2 separate regions of the Homo sapiens genome follow, and region 1 is linked to region 2. Evidence: fine-mapped expression QTL. A gene starts in region 2. The other region holds a variant in brackets. All regions are shown on one strand. Distances are between the middles of the regions. Region 1 overlaps OSBPL2 (oxysterol binding protein like 2). Region 2 holds the start of OSBPL2 (oxysterol binding protein like 2).

The links. PIP is the estimated chance that this variant, and not a neighbour inherited with it, causes the effect.
Region 1: its variant is fine-mapped to the expression of OSBPL2 in blood mononuclear cells (TOPMed, PIP 0.93).

Annotation. Positions count from the first base shown.
Region 1 is chr20:62,270,845-62,275,844 of GRCh38, reverse strand. OSBPL2 (oxysterol binding protein like 2) reads right to left here. Exons shown (of 14, transcript NM_144498.4): 5 at 3,586-3,720; 6 at 2,439-2,536. Among named protein-coding and RNA genes, the nearest start is that of ADRM1, 30 kb to the left of the region's middle. The variant G/A (reference allele first, on the strand shown) is at 2,066.
Region 2 is chr20:62,235,720-62,241,235 of GRCh38, reverse strand. OSBPL2 (oxysterol binding protein like 2) reads right to left here and starts at 2,715. Exons shown (of 14, transcript NM_144498.4): 1 at 2,639-2,715. It overlaps LOC105369209 (a long non-coding RNA gene), which reads right to left. Exons shown (of 4, transcript NR_160555.1): 4 at 4,935-5,516. RefSeq lists an enhancer at 966-1,890 and a silencer at 2,588-2,987.

The DNA.
Region 1 (5,000 bases), 35 kb before region 2:
AACTGCACTTCTTGGAACCCAAGATGCCATTCATTGCACTGCACACCATTATTTTATGAAAGAAAGAAAAAAATGCTGCAAATGAAACTATGACTTGGACTGGGCACAGAGGCTCACACCTGTAATCCTAGCACTTTGGGAGGCTGAGGGAGGCAGATCACTTGAGCTCAGGAGTTCAAGAGCAGCCTGGGCAACACAGCAAAACCCTGTCTCTACTGAAAATACAAAAATTAGCTGGGCATGGTGGCGCACGCCTGTAGTTCCAGCTACTTGGGAGGCTGAGGTGGGAAGATAACTTGAGCCCAGGAGGTCGAGGCTACAGTGAGCTGTGATCATATCCAGGAGGTTAAGGCAGGAGGTCGAGGCTACAGTGAGCCGTGATCATGTCACTGAACTTCAGCCTGGGCGACAGAGTGAGACCTCGTCTCAAAAAAAAAAAAAGGAACAAGAAACTGACATGTAGAAGTGCTGCCACGTGAACAAGGCGTCTTAGAATCGATGAAACACTCTAATTTAGAAAAAGTTTTTAATGTCACAGGAAAATTATGACATGTTAAAAAGGGATACAAATTAAATTATCATATTTTGAAACACACACAAAAGAAAGTCTAACAAAATGCTGACAGTTCCTCTCATTTTTTTTAAAGAGACACGGTCTGGCTCTGTAGTCCAGGTTAGAGTTCAGTGGCACGGTCACTGTAACTGAACTCCTGGGCTCAAGTGATGCTCCTGCCTCGCCTCCTGAGTTGCAGGTATTCCAGGCGTGAGCCCAGCCAGCTATTGTCTTGTATGGGATTATGCCTGATTCATCTTTTCTACCTTTCTCAATGTTACACATTTTCTATAAAGAGCACTCTCTCGTAATTAAAAAAACAAACAGACTTCATAATAAAATAACCCAACAGAATCTCAACTAACCCAGAATCCAAATAAGAGGCTAATTGTTTTGGCTCAACTCCCTTTTTCACAGAAAAATAATAAAACAAGATGATAAAGGAGCCCGCCTTCCCTCCCGTCTGCACTCTGTTCCTGGGCAGGGAGGCGTGCAGCCCAGCAGCCTGTGGCAAACAGCTTGCATTCTGCACAGCAGACTTGTCTAGATAACCACCCACGCCCCTCCAGCTCCTTCTCCCCAGGCAGGCGGAGCGAGCTCTGTGTGCTGGGCTCCACTGACAGTCAGAAGAGTGAAGGGTGTCCCACCAGCAAGCTCCTTCTTCCCAGAGTGAGCTCTGTGTGCTGGGCTACCTCGACAGTCGGAAGACTGAAGGGTGCAGCGAGAGTGCCCTGCCCCTCCCTCCTTCAGAACCACAGCTTAGCCCTGTCACAGAGACAGCAGCTGAACTGTGCTCTGCTGACTCTCCCTACACATCTGCCCATGGGCACCTGCATGCATCTACAAGAGAATGACGGGGTCCACGGGCAGTGGAATAAAAATCATTTTAGACATCACCAAACGGCCCTGAAGGAAGCCACCCACATCCCTCTCATCCACAGCTCCCCGGAGCCCCAGCCAGGCTGCTCAATGGCTGAGGAATTACCACACTGCCACATACATGCCATGGTCTGGCCTGCTTTTGACTTCATTTGTTGGTGTGGGTGGGCACTGTCACCTGGGCAGAATCCCAGGATGATTCTGTGAATAACCACAGCAGTCCCCAGGGCAACCAGGTGGGTGAAGAGAACCCCAACCAGTCCTTCCAGAGGCCCAGCCACAAACAACGGATCTGGGGCCCGGCTGGACCTCTGGGGTCAGAGTTCTAGGACTTGGAGTCAGTCTCACGTCTGTGAGGTGAGGGCCACCAGAGACAGGAGGGAAGCTGGGGAGACTCTAGGAAGGGATGGCAACGCTGCCTAGAAGAAAGTTCCATAGGAAGAAGTTTCAGGGATGTCTGGAGATGAGGCGTGGTCTGGTTAACTCTCCCTTGGCCAGAGCCGTCTGACCCTTCCTAAAACTCTGGGGAGGCTGTGGTGGCAAACGTGGCCTTGGGAGTGAAGCTCCTCTTTGCAATCATTCCTGTGTTTGGATTTACCTGCTTTTTCAATAGCGTTCACTAAATGCTTTAGT[G/A]AAACAGCCTAGTTTTGCTCATTAGTACCTATTTCCATTTTCGGTGAAGCTCACAACAATCCTACACATTTCACAGACGTCGCACACACACACGGAAGCGTCTACAGTGCGCGCTATCTCCACGCTTGAGTCGAACACACTAAAATATCTCATTGCCAGCGCTTTACACTCACTCAGACGCCGTGGCACGCTAGCACAACACCCCGTGTGTGTGAAACATCTCGCCTACAGCATCCAAACGCTTTCGTGAGCTCTTAATTCAAACAGTTTATTCTCAGAGCAGAGGAATCAATGCTAGTGAAAGAATCAAACTTATCTGTCATCCAAGGAATTCCATTTACAAGATATTTATGATGGGCCTTTCCCCCCTTACCTGATTAATTCATACGTTTCTCCCAAGAGTGGATTAAATGGTTTGCCGGTCCTCTCCCACTGGGAAGCCACAGCCGAAACAGCAAAAGCAGCCACAGACTGTAAATAATCCACGGGGGGGACAGGCACAGCTTCAGTTAGGAAACGCGCTGGAGAAGATGGCCTCTTGTGGAGGGCGGTGGGCACCTGGTTTCTGTCACTATTTGTTCCGTGTGCGTTTTCAGTTTTCCCCGAGCAGTGTGTCTGAGATTATAGGACTTCCAGGGAATGCCCTTCATCACCCGCCACTCCCCCGACAGCACAGAAAGAAGGAACTGGGTGCTGCCTTCCACCCCCGGAGCCAGGCCCTTCTGGCAGATGCTGCAGCAATGTCAGCCACTCCGTCTGATATGCACACACAAGGCCACACACTCAACACACACACCCCAAGCACTCATTCACAGAGGCATGCGCACACACGTGCACACGTTATGTGCACCCACAGTCACACACTTGTATTTTGTTATTTTTTAGACACAGGGTCTCACTCTGTCACCCAGGCTGGAGTGCAGTGGCGTAATCGTGGCTCACTGTAGCCTCTAGCTCCTGGGCACAAGCGATCCTCTCTCATCAGCCTCCCAAGTAGCTGGCATTGCAGGCATGCAACACTGCACCTGGCTAAGTTTTAAAAAATTTTTGTAGAGATGCGGTCTCACTGTGTTGCCTCAGCTGGTCTCAACCTCCAGGAGCAATTCATCCACCTCAGCCTCCCGAAGTGTTGGGATTACAGGCATGAGCCACCGTGCGTGCCCAGCCCACAGTCACACACATGCACACACATGGGGTGCGGTGGTGCAACAGGACCCAAGAGAAGCCCAAGGGCAGAGCCCACCGCCACCTTCAGCTCCAAGAGGCGGAGTCTCCCGGCAGGAGGCGGCAGCAGGGAGCTCTTGGGGCCACTGAGAGCTCAATGGCATTTCCGGCAAGTTCTGTCATCACACACCTGTGGTGACAGGACAAATGCCACGACCGCCAGGCAGGATGGCACTGAACACTGGGGGGAGCTGTGCGAGTCCTCACAGATGCCTGGGGCCCCAAGACTGTGTGGCCAGACATGCAAGGGGCATCACTTTCATGACAAACTCCTGCCTGGCACCCCTAAGGCCCACCTGCATCCTCTCCAGGGGCTGGGGCTGGCAGGAGGCCCTGTGGATGAGGTACACGTGCTCCATGTACTCCGTGATCCGCTGCAAGAAGCTCAGAGGCTCGTTGAAGGCGATTGGCATCGTGATCTTGGACAGCTCCTGGAAAGATGGGGAAGACTCGCTGGTTACTGCTGCCTTCCTGACACCGCTGGGCTGCCCGATGCCCCTGCTCTGAGCATCCCTTCATGGAGCCGCAGCCTCTGGGGTTGAACCGGATCTTCAAACCCCCCATGGGTGAGCCACTCCCTGCCCCATCGGCCCTGCCCTGTGAGCCTCAGCTGCCATCAGACCTGACACACAATCTGTGCTGAGCCTGCAGAGGTCTCTGGCATGACACCCCTGAATCCTCTCTGCCTCCCCAGCCCACCGCCCCATTCCAGACACAGAGACTGCCACAAGGGCTCTTGGGCCCACCTGCGCCCCCTCCCCTACTCCACATCTTCTCCACCCCACTTCCAGAGTAGTGGTCCCAGGCTGGGCACGGTGGCTCACACCTAAAATCCAAGCACCCTGGGAGGCCGAGGCGGGTGGATCCCTTGAGGTCAGGAGTTCAAGACCAGTCTGGCCAACACAGCGAAACCCTGTCTATACTAAAAATTCAAAAATTAGCTGTGCATGGTGGCGCACACCTGTAATCCCAGCTACTCGGGAGGCTGAGGCAGGAGAATCGCTTGAACCCAGGAGGTGAAGGTTGCGGTGAGCCGATATTATGCTATTGCCCTCCAGCCTGGGAGACAGAGCCAGACTCCGTCTCAAAAACAAAAAAACAGAGTAGTGGTCCCAGGCAGAGCCACCCACGCCGTTAAAAATAGTCCCTGGCTTCCCGTCCCTCCAGGATGCCTCGGACACACCTGAACCTGGCAAATGAGGCCTCCCATAACATGGCTCCATGTGGCTTTCCCCTAAGGCCTTCCGAGTTGGCAAAGGAGTCTCAGGTGTCTGCTCCCAGGCCCTGGACGGCAGGGCGCATGGCTTAGTGGGGGAAGCTGGGAAGGTGCCAAGGGGACGAGTGCCCACAGGGGCCACTCTTCCCACCGGGCTTCCAGGAAAGGGATCCCAAGGGCAGTAGGCATTCCAGGGAAACACAGCTGTCACCTCAGGGCAGGCTCTTCAGGAAGGAGCAGGGTCTGGGGTGGGCAAAGCAGAGGCAGAGGGAGAGGGACAAGGAGAGAAGGAGAGGACCAGAGAGACCAGAAAGGGACAAGGAAAGGACCCAGAGAGGCCAGAGAGGGACAAGGAGAGGACCCAGAGAGGCCAGAGAGGGACAAGGAGAGGACCCAGAGAGGGACAAGGAGAGGACCCAGAGAGGCCAGAGAGGGACAAGGAGAGGACCCAGAGAGGCCAGAGAGGGACAAGGAGAGGACCCAGAGAGGGACAAG
Region 2 (5,516 bases):
TCGCGCCACTGCACTCCAGCCTGGGCGACAGAGCGAGACTCCATCTCAAAAAAAAAAAAATTCCAAGACCCATCTGCTGGCATCTCCTGGACGGCACAGAGGAGAGACACTGGGATGAAAGTCAAGTGGCATTTTTTTCACATTCAAACAGCACCTCTCATTAACATGTGGAACACAGCAGAGTCTGACCCTCTCAACGCACTCGAGGCGTGGAAGAAAAATGTCCTACGTGTGTACTCTAAGGCAGTGTGTGAAGTCCCCTGGAACTGAACTCAGAACGGAGACCTCAGAGTCTGGACTGTACGCCTGTCAGCACCCATGCCCCTCAGTCCTCCCTCTTCACACAGAGACCACCACTGAATCTGCCAGTAACAAAGGAGCTGGGTGGCAGGGAAGGTATTCTGGCAAAATCCTGAATGGTCAAACGGTAAATTACTTTATTTCAGAAAAAATGAAATGGCTTTGTAAACACTCAGGCTCACAAAAAAGAAAGTCTATTAGTTCTATATGTAGCAAAATCCCGAAATTCTGACACAGAGTAATGCAGCATGATTAGAATATTCTAAACGAAAATGTTAAATGAAAATCTTGATATTAAAAGGCAGTACAGGGTAGTGTTTAAGAGTGTGAACCCTGGAGCCTGGGTTCAAATCCATATTTCATAATTTACTGCTGTGTGGTTTAGGTAAGTTACTTAACCTCTCTGTTCCTTAGCTTCCTCATGAATGAACTAAGGATAATGTCAGTACCTGCCCAGTGGACTGTTGTGAAGATCACACAAAGAAAGTGAATACGACATGCTCGTAACAGTCCTGGAACAATCATTATTAAATATTATCGTCTGCTGGGGTAAGAGCTGTCATTAATAGATGGACACATGAAGAAAACAGGGTAAATTCTATGAGGGAGACTCAGTCACTCACTCACTCATTGCCACATTCTAAAAGACGACACTGTGGCAGGCACTGGGCTGGGCAGGGAGGAAGTGCCACCGACAAAGTTCCTGTCCTCAACAAGGGGAAGGTAACTGGCATTCCGGGGTGCGCACTAGGTGTCAGAGACTGTGGTAGAAAATGATTTCATGGCAGGGCGCGGTGGCTCGCACCTGGAATCCTAGCACTTTGGGAGGCTGAGGCAGGCGGATCCCTTGAGGTTAGGAGTTCGAGACCAGCCTGGCCAACATGGTAAAACCCCATCTCTACTAAAAATAAAAAAATTAGGCGGGCGTGGTGGCCGGCGCCTGTGGTCCCAGCTAGATGGGAGGCTAAGGCAGGAGAATGGCTTGAAGCCGGGAGACGGAGGTGGCAGTGAGTCAAGATCGCACCACTGCACTCCAGCCTGGGCAACAAAGCGAGACTCCATCTCAAAACATAAAACAAGAAAATGATCTCGTTTGCTTCTCTTATCAGCAAAGTGCTACATGTCCGGATGAAGGAGTTGAGGCTGACAGCCAGAAAAGAGGCCATGGGCACGAGTTAGGAAGGGCAGCAGGGACGGCCGTGGCTTCCCAGCATGTGGCCCCTGCACCAGTTCCGGGCTCCTCAACTCTCCGCTGTCCTCACCACACATCCAGCTGGTGGGAAGGCCGCACAGCACCCAGCCAGGCCCACAGCAGGCATTCGAGAAACGTCTATCCAACCAAACCGAATGGGACCCCTTCTCCAGGTGTTCCGGGCAGTCATCCCAAAGCTGCCGGAGCCAGGCTAGGCCAGGGCCTGTCCTAGAGGACGGTTCAGATAGAAACGCCCCTGGGAGGTGACCCTCACCCCAGGAGAGCCTGCAACACCCCGACACCCACTGCCTCGTCGCCGGTCCTCCCATGAAGCGGGGAGGCTGAGGTGCTGTGACGACCTAACAGTCTTGGTCTGGGCTTATAAACTTGGAAAGTCTAAAGACGTATTCTTCTGAGTACCAAAATATAACTGGCGAAAGAAGGAACCTCTTAAAATTACATTACCAAAGATAGGTTTTAGGTAGCAAGTTCTCAACCGTGTGTAGTCTGCTAAGATTTATAAATTAAAAACAAAAACAGAGCCCAGGGGAACGGACAAGGGCTCGCGGGCACCCTCCCCGGGACGACGTGCACACAGGCCTGCGGGACAAGAAGGCCAGGGTCGGAGTGGGACTGCGTCTCCCTGCCCTTCTTCCCGGCGGAACTCGCCCTCCTCACCTACAGGATCGCCCTAAATGCGCACGAAATCCTTCCCTGTTCCCGGTGAGGTGGTGAGAGAGGGCGAGGCCGCGAGCAGGTGCGCCCGTCCCCACTTCCTGCTCAGCGGGGCAGCAGGGGGGCTGGGGATCTCGGGGGGGCCGGGCCGGGGGTCCCGGGATCGCAGTTGCCGGGCGACCGCAGGGGGAAGGGTGCGGGGGCCGCGGGACCCAGGCCCAGGCCCCACGCCCGGCCGGAACTTTCCTCCCAAAGTTTCCCCGGGGCGCCAGGCTGCGGCCTAGGCCGGGCGCGCCTCCCAGTGGGGGTCGAGGCCGGGGCCGGGGCCGGGGCTGGAGGCGGCCTGCGGACCCGGGTCCTGCCCGGCCCGCCCTCCCCTCCCCGCCCCGGCTCCAGCCCCAGCCCGCGGCCCAGGCCCCGCAGCTCGCCGGGGTCCCGGGCCTTCGCGTGGCGGCGGCGGGGGCCACTCACCTGGACGCGGGTCCCTCGGTTGCCGGCCGAGCTCACTGCCGCCCCGCCCCCGCCCCGTAGGCCCGCGACCCACTGACACCGAGGCGGAAGTGCGGCCCGCCGCCTCGCCGACTGACAGCCCGCGCCCGCCACTCGCTGCGCCCGGCGCCGCCGCGTCGGCCGCTGCCTGCCCAATCAGCGCCCGGCCCGAGGCTCGCGCCGGGGGGTGGGACTATGCTAATCCCTTCGCGAAGGGCCTCTACCTGTGCCCCCTCAGAGCCCCGCCCACGCAGCGGAGTGACGGCAAGGACAGCCAGTCACAGCAGGAGAGAGGCGGGGTTATGCCGCCCCTGAGCCAAAAGGGGAGGGAGGCAAGGAGGAAAGGGCGTGGCTGCAGAGAGCAGAGTTGACAAACAGTGAGTCAGGTGGCCCGGGGCGTGGGTGCTCCGCCCTCAGGTGCACTGCGTCCTGGCGGCAGTGCGGGCCTGCGAGGCTACCCAAAGCCCTGGGGGCTTTTTCCTACAAATGCTGGGGACCGTGCGATAGCTGGGGCGTAGCTGCTTCCACTGTCCTACCAAATCCTGAATATCGTCCACCTCCTTTGCATGCCATTCACCGCCAACCAAAATCCAGCGCCAATTTACCCCTCCAGCTGCATCCCCGACCGTTTCACCACCATACTTAAAACCCTTTGGACTCCCACTGACCTACAGTGGCTCCAGGGTTAAGCCCAGAAGTTCTGGAATCAGACCTGGAGCTTGCATTCTTTACCAGCTGTGTGGATTTGGACAAATTAATTAACCTCTCTGAGTCTGTGATCACTCAGTTTCATCTGCAAACCAGGGTTCCCCTGTCAACATCTCATTGAAGTCATGGGTCTGGTTTGAGGTGAGTGGAGTGGCATAAACCAGGCTGGCTACATAGTCACAGCAGTTGGTTTAGGGGTCAGCCTGTGACCCAGTTCTAGCCAAAGAGGCTCAGTCCTGGGACTTTTGCTGTAGGGTCAGAGTTCAGACCGGAGGGGAGGCTGAAGTCAAATGACTCTCCCATCTGCCCACAGACCTCTCCAGAGCTGGGTTAGGTGAGAGAGGGAAGGGGCCAGTCTTCCACATCTCACTACCCGAGAACAGGGCTGCACGAGAATGAAGCCAGCCCAGAGGAAAGCCGGAGCAACCACGGCCGGGTCACGTGGACCCTGCTGCACCTCAGCAGGTCCTTTCCTTGACTTTTCAGTTACGTGAACCACATGCTTGTTTCTGCTTCAGCCCATTTGAGGTAAAGCCAAGAGTCCTGGGCTTCCTGTGGCCTTGAGAGCTCTGGCAGATGACCCGTGACCCCGCAGTGCGTCCTGCAGCAAAGCCAGCCCCCGTTGGGCCTCTGCACCCCCTCCTCAGGCCTTGTCTCCCCACTTCCAGGCTGCCCCTAGCAGGGCCATGGAGGCAGGGACAGGCCTTTGCCCCATCTGTGGCCCCGTGGCAGACGTGGGTACTCTCTATAAATTTCAGGGCATGAGTGAGCCAATGAACGTGGCCTCTGTGGCAGGGGTGGGGCCCAGGCCACATCTCTGGGCCCAGCAGGGCCGTTCTCCCCCACCCCAGGGGCTGGCCCCACTCACTGGTGGGCCACTGTCAGTCGGCGCCACTAGAGACGTGCCGGGACCAGGAAGGAGCTGGCTGAGCCTCTCCTGAAGAGAGAACGGGGAGGAGGGCGGGCAGGCCTCAGAAACAAAGGGGTTGCCATGGTTACCTCTGAAGAAAGCGACTCCAGCCGGTGAAAGGGAAGGGAAGGCGTGCGGCCCCCAAGCCAGGACAAGGACGATGAGGCCAGTTGCCACGGAGATGACTGCGCTCCACAGCTTTCCCTGTGGGCCTTGCCAGGGCCAGCTCAGGGTCCCAGAAACCCATCACTCTCCATGTCCCTCACCCTAAGTCTCTAAGACTCTAACCCCTGTGCCCTTGAGGGGATCCAACCTGCCCACCCACCCCTTGACCACGAGCTCTGCAGTGAGGGCAGCCTCAGAGGCTCAGGCAGAAGGACCCTCTCATCTGCCCAGGGACCACCCCAGGGCCAAGCAGGGAGATCCACCCTGGCCTTGGGGTTGGGGGTGTGATCTCAGATGGCCCCTGGGCTGGAGCAGGGGTTTCACCCCTCTCCACAAATGCAGTAACTGAGCTTCAAGGGTAGTCTGCCGTCAGCCAGCACTGCTGGAGACGTGCCAGGACTGGGAAGGGTACTTCCTCCCCGGGGCCAGTTGCTGGGACTAGGCGAGAATCCTCCCTCAGTTGGTGGGTAGTAAGGAGGGTGCCTTGAGACCAACTTAGGCGTCTTTGTTATGATCTTTACTAGGTCACGAGGCCAATTCAAGAGGCACAGTTCTCCAAGGATGGAAGATGGGGGTGGAGAAGGCAACAAAGATGGATGAGCTGGGGCCATGATGATGAGGATGATGATGTTGATGATGATGATGGTGATGGCGGCCGAGTGCCCTGTGATTTACAGGCCCATCTGGTTTCATGTTTGCAACAGCCAATCAAGTGGGTACCAGGTGCCATCATTCCCACTTTACAGATGAGAAGACTGAGCCCCAGACAGGTTAAGTGACTCCCCCAGCCCTGCAATGAGGAAGGGCCCAGCACAGCTCCAGGCACAACAAGCAGGCACTCCAAGCATAGGGAGGTCTGGTGGACCAGGCCTGGCCCAGGAGCTTGTCGGCAAGGCAGAGCCGCATCCAGGCTCCCGGACCAGGATCCGCACACGAACAACAGGCCCAGGAGTTCCCATGGCTGTGGCTGCTGGACCCCCGCACCAGGTGGGCTGGCGGCTGTGTCCCACACATGCTCTCTAGAGCCTGAGAAATGCTCATCCTGCAGGTGATTTGGGGGGTGTCTGCTCCCACCTT